Homo sapiens: one gene and its partners. The protein of the gene in region 2 purifies or fractionates together with the protein of the main gene of each other region. This does not show direct contact. Each region holds a gene or a part of one and is shown on either strand. Other genes may lie near its edges.

Region 1 (3,732 bases), on a different chromosome or scaffold from region 2:
TGGTTGAAAAATTATTTTGAAAATAAGTTTATAGTTGTAAAAAAGAAATGGTCAACATAAAACATGTATTATTTTCATTTGTCTTAAAATGAAGGTTATGAAATCAACTTGTCTAACAAACTTGTGTTTTGGTCTCAGATTAGACTGTCCCTTTGATACAGCAGTGCAATTGGCAGCTTATAATCTGCAAGGTAAGCAATTCTTATGTTGACTGTTAAGACTCAAGTATAATCTTTTTTGTGTGTGTTTTTAGTTAAAGAAGATTCTAATTATGTGCAAGAAAAGAAACAACACTGTTTTTGTATAAACTTGTATCAGGGTCCAACTCTGACTTTTACTTGTTTTAGAACATTGCCTTCTTTTTCTTCTCTTTCATGTAATTGCGCCCTTTCCACCTAAAGTGTTGAAACGTCATACTCTACCTGATAAGTCTGTAAATGCTAAGATTGGGCCTTCGGCTAACTTTTTCCTTAAAAGAAATGCAGTTATGTAGGAGTGAATTGTTGGTGAAGCCATATAGCTTAGCAGTCCTTTTGCTCCAAACCTACATTTTGTTCAGAAATAACCACAGATGAGTACATACATGTTTGTGCATTGTTCAGATTTTTCCCTGCTGCTTTCTCCCCCCGATTTTTTTTAGTTCCTTTCAGTTATTTCTTTAGGATTAATAATTTTAAAATTTTGGAAGACAGGGACTATATTTAGATTGGTATATGGGGTCATATTCAGTGTATATCAGTATATTCTTTTGTTTTGTTTTTTTTTGAGACAGGGTCTCACTCTTGTCCCCAGGCTAGAGGGCAGTTGCATGATTGTAGCTCTCTGAAGCCTTGAACTACTGGGCTCAAACGATCTTCCTGCCTGAGTAGCTGGGTCTACAGGCCATTAGGCCTGGCTAATTTTTGTACTTTTTTTTTTTTTTTTTTTTTTTTTTAGAGACGAGGTCTTGCTATGTTGCCTAGACTGGCCTGAAACCATCTTCCACCTCAGCCCTCCCAAAGTACTGTGACTATAAGCATGAACCACCACACCCAGCCTTAGTAATATTCTTAATAGATGCCAGTTAATTGTCTTTTAACGATTGCTAAATTTTTTCATTTATTCACTATAAGGTCAGAGGTATTTCTTTATGGAAGTCTAGAAAGCAGTTTTCAAAGGTTAAGTAAGCACTGAAGTGTGAATACATTAAGAGAAAGATATGTAATTAAAAATACACTACCAAAAATAAATATGAGATATATGTGTATGACTAATATGCCAGATTTACTTTTGGAGACTTGTCTGAGTATTATGAATTTTTGTAAGAAATTCCTAAGAATCTTTCTAATCTTAGCAGTTTTCATTAATGAAATGGTTTTTGAAGGATTTAGCAGGAAATACATATAACTTTTGAAACTTATGTTTATAGCTGAACTTGGTGACTATGATCTTGCTGAGCATAGTCCTGAACTTGTCTCAGAGTTCAGATTCGTGCCTATTCAGACTGAAGAGATGGAACTGGCTATTTTTGAGAAATGGAAGGAATACAGGTATCTGGCGTTTGACCATACTTTCTTTAAAATCACCACAACAGTTATTTCATATTCATTTTCTTCTGTTTCTATCCTTGGTATAGAATTTATTTTATATTTATTGTTACTTTAAAAATCATTGTTTTAAATTTCAGAGGTCAAACACCAGCACAGGCTGAAACCAATTATCTGAATAAAGCCAAATGGCTAGAAATGTATGGGGTTGATATGCATGTGGTCAAGGTAAGCATTGTGTTGTGATGCTTTTTTAAAAATTTATTCTTTGGAGGTTCGCAGTGACTGTGGAATTTTTCAGTATGAGGGAGGGCATGGAGTTTGCATAAGCTAGCACTGGGTACTTTGGATGTATGGTTAAAAAGTTTGAGATTAAATACCAAATGACTAGAATCTCACAGAAAGGTTCATTATAAGAAAGAAGAGAAGCAACCAACATCCCTAACAAGGTACTTGGTCCTTTTAAGCTGTTATTTTATTTTATTTTATTTTTTTGCTATAAAAAATTGTTTTAAGCTTTTGAGCCATTTGTTATCCTTTTTACTTCCTGTTATACGACTTACACTGAGTAGGCTCTGTTAAAATAATTCAGGATGCAAAGTTGAAGATTTATAGCTTAAAGACTTTGATAAACTTTAGAACAGCTTTGTAGTGATTTAAGTTATTTCTAGTTTAACTAGTAACATTTTTCCAGAAAGGCGGTTGTATTAGTTCATTCTCGCACTGCTATAAAGACATAAATTTATAAAGAGGTTCAATTGGCTCATGGTTTTGCAGGCTGTACAGGCTTCTCCCTCTCAGGAGGCCTCAGGAAACTTATAATCATTGGGCAACGTGAAGGGCAAACAGGCACATCTGTACATGGCTGGCAGGAGGGAGAGAGAGCAAAGAGGGAGGTGCTACACACTTTCAGACAACCAGATCTTGTGAGAACTCATTCACTATCATGAGAACAGCAAGGGGGAAGTCCGTCTCCATGATTCAGTCACCTCCCACCAGGCCCCTCCTCCAATACTGGGGATTACAATATGACACAAGATTTGGGTGTAGACATAGAGCCAAACCGTATCAGCAGTCTTTTCCAAAATACATGATTTAAGTGGTAAGTATAATATGGGAAGAATGTGGAAACAGCTTTGTTTGTAGTGGGAGTGTAACTACCCACTTTCAATGAAGATACACTTTAAAACTCTAGTGTTTCAATGACTAGAAATAAAAATATATGCATAAATTTTTCTGAGAATATTATTATGGATACTCTAATTGTTGAAAACATCTCATATATTAATATTAGCCTGTATATAATTAATACAATTCAATACAAAAATAAAATTTAAAAGTTGTGTCAATGTGAAACCTGTTTTGTACAAATAAAGCTAACACATTTTTCTCCCCTTAAATTAGGCTAGAGATGGGAATGACTATAGTTTGGGACTAACACCAACAGGAGTCCTTGTTTTTGAAGGAGATACCAAAATTGGCTTATTTTTTTGGTAAGCAAGAGTTATTGTCAAAGATACTTACTGTTGTTTTGGTTTTTAATGAGTAAATAAAGTTAATACATAAACAAGTTTGGAAATCAAATAGTTTTGAAAAACTTGTCAATGAAAGCAACTGTCTCCTGTCACACTATTACGCATCATTATTCCTACTCTCCAGAGGCAATTATTAAAACTCTTCTAGCTGTATTTCCCATTAGTTTCAAAGTATACCACAATCTATATCTTGATATAAATATTTATATTTTTATATGTATCAGATGTTCACATGGGCACTTTCTCCCTCCATGTAGTCATGTCATTGCTTTTAATATTTATTATTCCACAATCCCTTTACCCCCTATTGTGTAAGAGGAAGATACTAATATTTTTATCCCTTCTCTAAGCTGTGCTCCTTATACTGTTCCAGCTTTTATCGTTCATACTTTTAAATTACATTTATGTTTTACTTTTACATCAAGGATAGATTTTACTTGGATTTCTTGGCCATAATTGAGTCCATCAGATTTTGTCTGGTATTCTAAAAGCTGAGAATCAGGGTACTGTTTACAATAAGATGTCTCTATCAGAATAGTACAGAGCCTAGGTGTTTACTTTTGTACACTAGACAGGGACTGTTAGCGCAAAGACCTCTGGCATCAAACTCAAATTCTGACACATCCAGTTACTTTAAACATAGCCCACTACGTATATTTTTAGCCATTTCT
Region 2 (3,732 bases):
TTTAGATCCAGGTAAGGTACTGATGTAGAAAAAGGGTCATGGCTGAGGGTTTGGAAGGGAACTTGGTTTAGGATATGGAATATCTAGAAAAATGCCTGTGTGACTGTATGTTCACCTAACTTTTTTTGGCCTTAGTTTCTTCATTATACTGATGGAAATATATATGGAGGGTTTTTGTAAATTGTGAAGTGTAATACAGATGTAAAGATTTTTTTGGGGTTTTTTGTTTTGAGACAGAGTCTCGCTCTGTCACTCATGCTGGAGTGCAATGGCACAATCTCAGTTCATTGCAACCTCCGCCTCCCAGGTCCAAGCGATTTTCCTGCCTCAGCCTCTCAAGTAGCTGGGATTACAGGTGCCCACCACCACGCCCAGCTAATTTTTGAATTTTTAGTAGAGATGGGGTTTCCCCATGTTGGTCAGGCTGGTCTCCAACTCCTGATCTCAGGTGATCCACCCACCTCAACAAATTTAAATATGGCTTTAAAATATAGTTTGAAAACTGAATTAAGAATTAAAGGGGGCCAGGTGCAGTGGCTCATGCCTGTAATCCCAACAGTTTGGGAGGCCAAGGCAGGAGGAACACTTGAGATTAGGAGTTCGAGACTAGCCTGAGAAACATAACAAGACTGTCTCTCTACAAAACATAAAAAAAATTAGCTGAGCATGGTGACATGCGCCTGTAGTCCTAGCTACTTGGAAGGCTGAGGCAGGAGGACTGCTTGAGCCTAGGAAGTCGAGATGGCAGTGAGCGGTGATTGCACCACTGCACTCCAGCCTGGGTTGCAGAGTGACACCCTGCCTCAAAAATGAATAAGAATTAAAGAGATGAGGCCGGATGCCTCGGTATTTTTGGCGCTGCGATCGCGACACTGCACTCCAGCTTGGGGTGACAAGACTGTGTCAAAAAAAAAAAAAAGAACCTCTGACATACAAAATACTATTTAAAAAAGGGGTGAGGGGGCAGGGCATGGTGGCTTATGCCTATTATCCTAATACTTTGGGAGCCTGAGGCACGAGGCTCACTGGAGCCCAGGAGTTTGAAACCAGCCTAGGGAACATTTAAAAAAAAGGTGGGGGGGCGGTGCGGGGGCAGGGAATACATCTCTTTTCAAACTCCTGACCTCAGGTGTTCTACCCACCTCGGCCTCCCAAAGTGCTGGAATTACAGGTGTGAGCCACCATGCCAGGCCGAGACAGTGGTTTCTGAGAATTCTTTGAAATTGATAATTTTGTGGGCATTTCAGTGCATTTTTCTGGAAAGGTCCATTACCTTCAACAGAAATGTTGAAAAACAAAATGTTAGTGGTTACTGGTAAACTGTTTTGTGGTTGTGACTGTTTTTCAGTTTTTACCTGCTTGCTTTTCCCATTTTGTCAGCTGTCCCACCCATCACAATAGTTAACAGATTTGCTGTATAACCCTGCAGATAATTGCTAGTTTCTGCATCTTTTTATATACAAGATATGTCATTTAGTTTCTTGGTCTTTAGTTATTATTTTGTTCACAGCTTGGTGGGTGCAGTGCTTTTGGTCTTTCCATTTTCTTCCCTTTAATTATTTTATAAATTTTTTGAGACGGAGTCTCCCTCTTGCCCAGGCTGGAGTGCAGTGGCATGATCTTGGCTCACTGCAACCTCCACCTCCCAGGCTCAAGTGCTGCTTCTGCCTCAGCCTCCCTAGTAGCTGAGATTACAGGCACCTGCCATCAGGCCTGGCTAAGTTTTGTATTTTTAGTAGAGATGGGGTTTCACCATGTTGACCAGGCTGGTCTTGAACTCCTGACCTGAAGTGATCTGCCCACCTCAGCCTCCCAAAGTGCTGGGATTATAGCCATGAGCTTCTGTGCCTGGCCTTTTTTTGAGATGGAGTCTCACTCTGTCGCCCAGGCTGGGGTGCAGTGGTGCGATCTCGGTTCACTGCAACCTCCAACTCCCGGGTTCAAGTGATTCTCCTGCCTCAGCCTCCCGAGTAGCTGGGATTATAGGCGCCTGGCACCATACTTAGCTAATTTTTGTATTTTTAGTAGAGATGAGGTTTCACCATGTTGGCCAGGCTGGTCTTGAACTCCTGACCTCGTGATCCACCTGCCTCAGCCTCCCAAAGTGCTGGGATTACAGGCGTGAGCCACCGCACTCGGCTTCTTCTCTTTAATTCTTATTTATTTATTTTTGAGACAAAGTGTCACTCTGCCACCCAGGCTGGAGTGCAGTGGTGCAGTCACGGCTCACTGCCATCTCGACCTCCTAGGCTCAAGCAGTCCTCCTGCCTCAGCCTCCCAAGTAGCTGGGACTATAGGCGCATGTCACCATGCTCGGCTAATTTTTTTTATTTTGTAGAGAGAGAGTCTTGTTATGTTTCCCAGGCTAGTCTCGAACTCCTAATCTCAAGTGTTCCTCCTGCCTTGGCCTCCCAAACTGTTGGGATTACAGGCATGAGCCACTGCGTCTGGCCCCCTTTAATTCTTAATTCAGTTTTCAAATTATATTTTAAAGCCATATTTCAATTTTTTTCCTACACTTTTCATGCAAGAATAAGTTTTTAAAACTCTTAGTTGCCAGGCATGGTGGCTCATGCCTGTAATCCCAGCACTTTGGGAGGCTGAAGCGGGTGGATCACCTGAGGTCAGGAGTTCAAGACCAGCCTGACCAACATGGCGAAACCCCGTCTCTAATAAAAATACAAAAAATTAGCTGGGCGTGGTGGCACATGCCTGTAATCCCAGCTACTTGAGAGGCTGAGGCAGGAGAGTCGCTTGAACCCAGGAGGCAGAGGTTGCAGTGAGCCGAGATCATGCCATTGCACTCCAGCCTGGGTGACAAGAGTAAAAACTCTGTCTCTAAATAAATAAAAACATACATACATACAAACATATGTACAACTCTTAAGTTATCCTTTCTCCGAAACTGAGAATCTGGGCTTGGCTTGTGGCTCACGCCTGTAATCCAGCACAGGAAATTTAGAAATTAGCCCAGGTCAGTAGTGCGCCTTGTAGTCCCAGCTACTTGGGAGGCTGAGGTGGGAGGGTCACTTGAGTCCTGGAATTTAAGATGTCAGTGAGCTATGATTGTATCACTGCACTGTAGCCTATGCACCAAACAAGAACCGCCCCCCCATCTCAAAAAAAGAATTACGATGAAAGTGTAGTATAAGGGAAATACTAGTCTATGTTTTTGTATTAAAATTAACATTTCAAGAGTTGATAGCTAATATTTTTTAATACGGGGGGGATATGAATTTTTTTTTTTTTTTTTTGTTTTGGAGACAGGGTCTCACTCTATCACCCAGGCTGGAGGGCAGTGGTGCCATCACAGTTTGCTGCAGCCTCGACCTCCCAGACACAGGTGATCCTTTCTTTCACATCAGCCTTCTAAGTAGCTGGGACCACAGGTGAGTGCTGCCATGTCCAGCGAATTTTTTATTTTTTGTAGAGATGGGCTTCTGCCATGTCTCAGAATTTTGGTAGGCTGAGGCTGGTGGATCGCTTGAACCCAGGAATTTGAGACCAGCCTGGCCAACATGGTGAAACCCTGTCTTTACTAAAAATACAAAAATTAGCCGGGCGTGGTGGTGCATACCTGTAATCCCAGCTACTTGGGAGGCTGAGGCAGGAGAATCACTTGAACCTGGGAGATGGAGGTTGCAGTGAGCCGAGATCGTGCCACTGCAGTCCAACCTGGGTGACAGATTGAGACACTGTCTCAAAGGGAAAAAAAATTAGGTTTATTGGGGT
Region 3 (3,046 bases), on a different chromosome or scaffold from region 2:
CCCAGTGTCACCAGTGACCGGAATAGGAGGGGAAATTGCCCGTCTGTGAGGTCAGCTCCTGACTGACAGCTATCAGAGAATGGCAGGGAGACTCTCCATTTTCCAAATGATGCAGTGGTGGTCAGTGGGGTTAGTAAGCGGGCTTAATATCCCCTAATGGCACCTGAGCCGTGGGAGTGAAGCCACTTGCCATAAGCCAAACATAGATCCCCTGATGACTGTCCGTGTCCTGCCCTAGCCATCTAACAGCAAATTCTTTTCCTTGGTGGAGGAGCTAATACGTAGACAGGCTTTAAAAGGCAGGAGCAGCCTTCCAAGCAGTGCTACTCTCGCCTGGTAAGGTGAAGTTGGTGGGCAGAGCTTCCGGAGTGTCCTGGATCTGCCATTAAACAAGGAATATCCCTCCCCAGCTAATCTACTTAATACATAAGCACCACGGAAAAGCAGAGTTCTTGGCTGCATGCCAGGTACCCAGTATTAAGAAGCCAGGACAAAAGTAGTTATGGAAACCATTTTAATGCTAGGAGAATGTTTTTACTTACTGCCTAGGGAAGCTGTAGGGCTTGGCCCACATCCAGCAGGGCCTGGGGCCCCTGGAAGCCACTCACTGAGTTACAGCCCCCTCCCCACTCCTGTATCTGCTCAGGGTGGTGATGTGTTTGCTCCTAGACTCTCTCTCATGGTTCCCCTGACACTCCTGCTTGGGAAGCCACCGAGTCACTGCCAAGGTGACATGCTTCCCCATCTGCAGTGCCCTATGCTTCCTGTCAGGAAGGACAGGTTGGGGAATATCCCTTTGCAGAGCCCATACGATGAGTGTGTCAGGTATAATAGCTATTTTCACACAAGGAATCTCATTCTGTTTTAACCAATAATCCAGTGACACATAGGTATTGTTGCCATTTCACAAACTTGGGAATTGGGGCTCAGGGAGGTGAAGTGACTTGGCCAAGATCATACAGCTAGTAAGTGAATGCTGAAGTTAGAACCCTGGCATTCTGGCTCCAGAGCTCTCATTTGTGCTTAAAATAGGAACCCAGTCAAAAGCAGGGACTGTGCTCTTTCTGTTGCTAATTGTTCCCATTGATTTAAAAGTTTCCTTTGGAGAGAAAGTATCATAATAAACATGCAGTTGTAAAAACAAGCTCTCAAAGCAACTCTCCTTCCAGCTTTTGGTCTGGAGAGAGATGGCTCTGTGGGGTGAGGGTAGAGAATTATCCAGGAAGTGGGACTGGCCAGGGTGACTGGCTGCTGTGGACAAGCAAGGTAACATCCACAGATGACTAGAAATTTTAACAAGGTGCCAAAGCCTGCCACACCTTTTCATCCACTATGTTTTCCCTTCGAGACAAAGATCTGAGAGAGAACGTGGGGGAAACAAGGGCAATGGTTCGGATTTGGCCAGTGGTTTTTTGCAAAAAGGGGAAAAGCAGAGGGTAAGACCATGAAAGTAACTTGGCCTTCCTCTGCCAGAGCTTGAGTGTCCTGATTCTGAAGTGATAGAATAGATTCTTTTCTGGGAAGAGGGCCCCTGTGAGTTTCCGGGGGGCTCTGTGACCTGGAAGCACAGCACAGGCAAGTCTCCTAGAGGGAATTTCTCCAGCCAGTCTGCCAAACAGCTCTGCTTCTGAGGCTACCACACAAGCCACAAATACAGAGACATAGCAGCCCAGTGAGGCTTCTGCTGTGCTTGAGAGCCTAGCTGGAAGGCCCAGAGCCCACCTTACAGCCCCTTAGAACAGCCAAGGCGTCATCCAGGCTGTGTGTGTGTCCGTTCACACCTTTCAGTTGGGAAACAGGGATCCCCTGGAGACTTGTCTGGCAAAGATGATGATATTCACAAATCATGTCATGTGTTCCCCCCACGCTTCCAGTGTACTTCTCATAGACCATGGTGGGACACTGAACAAATTCAGAGGTGACAGTCAAATTTACATTCCTGTGAAAAAGTGACATAATGACTTAGCCAGAGCCTTTGGATCCAAACTCCAGCTGAGGGCAGTATGGAAACCAGGGTCCCTGCTTGGAACTAAAATCCCCTGATATCTGAGAGTGCTATTGGCTTTTCACGAAGGCAGAAGAGTGACACAAATCTGACATTTGTGTCAAGAGGACTCTGAGGAGTCTGCTACCCAGTCCTTGTGCAGTCAGGTTGTCAGCAGACTCATGCAGCAGCACCAATAGATTCCAGTAAATCCCTGCAGAATGAAACCTGTGAGAAGGTGGCCTTCAATTAAGGAAGGACCCCAAAGGGCAATTCCACACCCTGCATTTTCCATTTCCTCTTATAGAGGAAGAGAGGTTGCTAGCAGCACCTCTGCCCAGCCAGGGTGTGGGTCCCCACTGGTGCCATCTTGCCGGCCAGCCCACAGATGGAATCTTGAAGGTCCTGAGGCAGCAAGGTGAGGGGCTTATTTAAGGGGTATGGCCAGGTGGCTGAAGGAGGAAGCTGCTGGCCGGAATTCCCAGGCGGTTTCCACAGTGGAAATCTCCCCACTGCCAACTTCCCATGGCTTGTCTGTTCTTTCCCACCTACCCTCTGACCAGTCCATAAAGAGAGCAGAAGCGGGAAAGGGAGGAAGAAGCCAGGGGCAGCCTGCAAAGCGTCTGCTCTGCTCAGCTGGGTCCATGGCTGTGCGTGCCAACACTTCTATCCTTGAAGTATCCAGACTCCACTTCTAGGATTTGCTGGGGATGATGGGACAGCTGCGGCTTCCTGGTCCCAGACAGAAATACACAGATTCTGGTCCAGACCCTAGTCTTGTAAGCCTCTGTCCAGGTGGGGCTGAAAGCAGAACCCTGAAGGGCTCGTCCACCAAGAGTCAGGCAGTTCTAGCCCTGAGAGAGGTAGAGGGGCCCCAACAATTTGAGCTCCTACTAAAGGCTAAAGGCCCCTTTCTGGACTTTGGCAAAAAAAGGAAGTCTTTTTTTTTTTCTCCTTAAGTTAGGGGTAGGAAAATACATCCATCATGAATGTTTGAAACCACACCGTAGCCCTCACATTCAAGTTGACCTCAATAGGCCATCTGTCAGAGCCCAGTCCAAC

What was found.
Region 1: the proteins of GPBP1 (region 2) and EPB41L5 purify together in Homo sapiens (affinity purification with mass spectrometry; 2 studies listed by BioGRID and IntAct, with this or other methods). This does not show direct contact.
Region 3: the proteins of GPBP1 (region 2) and OTUB2 purify together in Homo sapiens (affinity purification with mass spectrometry; one large-scale study listed by BioGRID and IntAct). This does not show direct contact.

The regions. Positions count from the first base shown.
Region 1 is NC_000002.12:120,075,563-120,079,294, forward strand, and holds part of EPB41L5 (band 4.1-like protein 5), read left to right. Parts: intron 1-138; coding exon 139-191; intron 192-1,408; coding exon 1,409-1,529; intron 1,530-1,666; coding exon 1,667-1,754; intron 1,755-2,930; coding exon 2,931-3,019; intron 3,020-3,732. UniProt on the Homo sapiens protein: Plays a role in the formation and organization of tight junctions during the establishment of polarity in epithelial cells.
Region 2 is NC_000005.10:57,180,530-57,184,261, forward strand, and holds part of GPBP1 (vasculin), read left to right. Parts: intron 1-3,732. UniProt on the Homo sapiens protein: Functions as a GC-rich promoter-specific transactivating transcription factor.
Region 3 is NC_000014.9:94,046,385-94,049,430, reverse strand, and holds the end of OTUB2 (ubiquitin thioesterase OTUB2), read right to left. Parts: 3' UTR 501-3,046; downstream 1-500. UniProt on the Homo sapiens protein: Hydrolase that can remove conjugated ubiquitin from proteins in vitro and may therefore play an important regulatory role at the level of protein turnover by preventing degradation.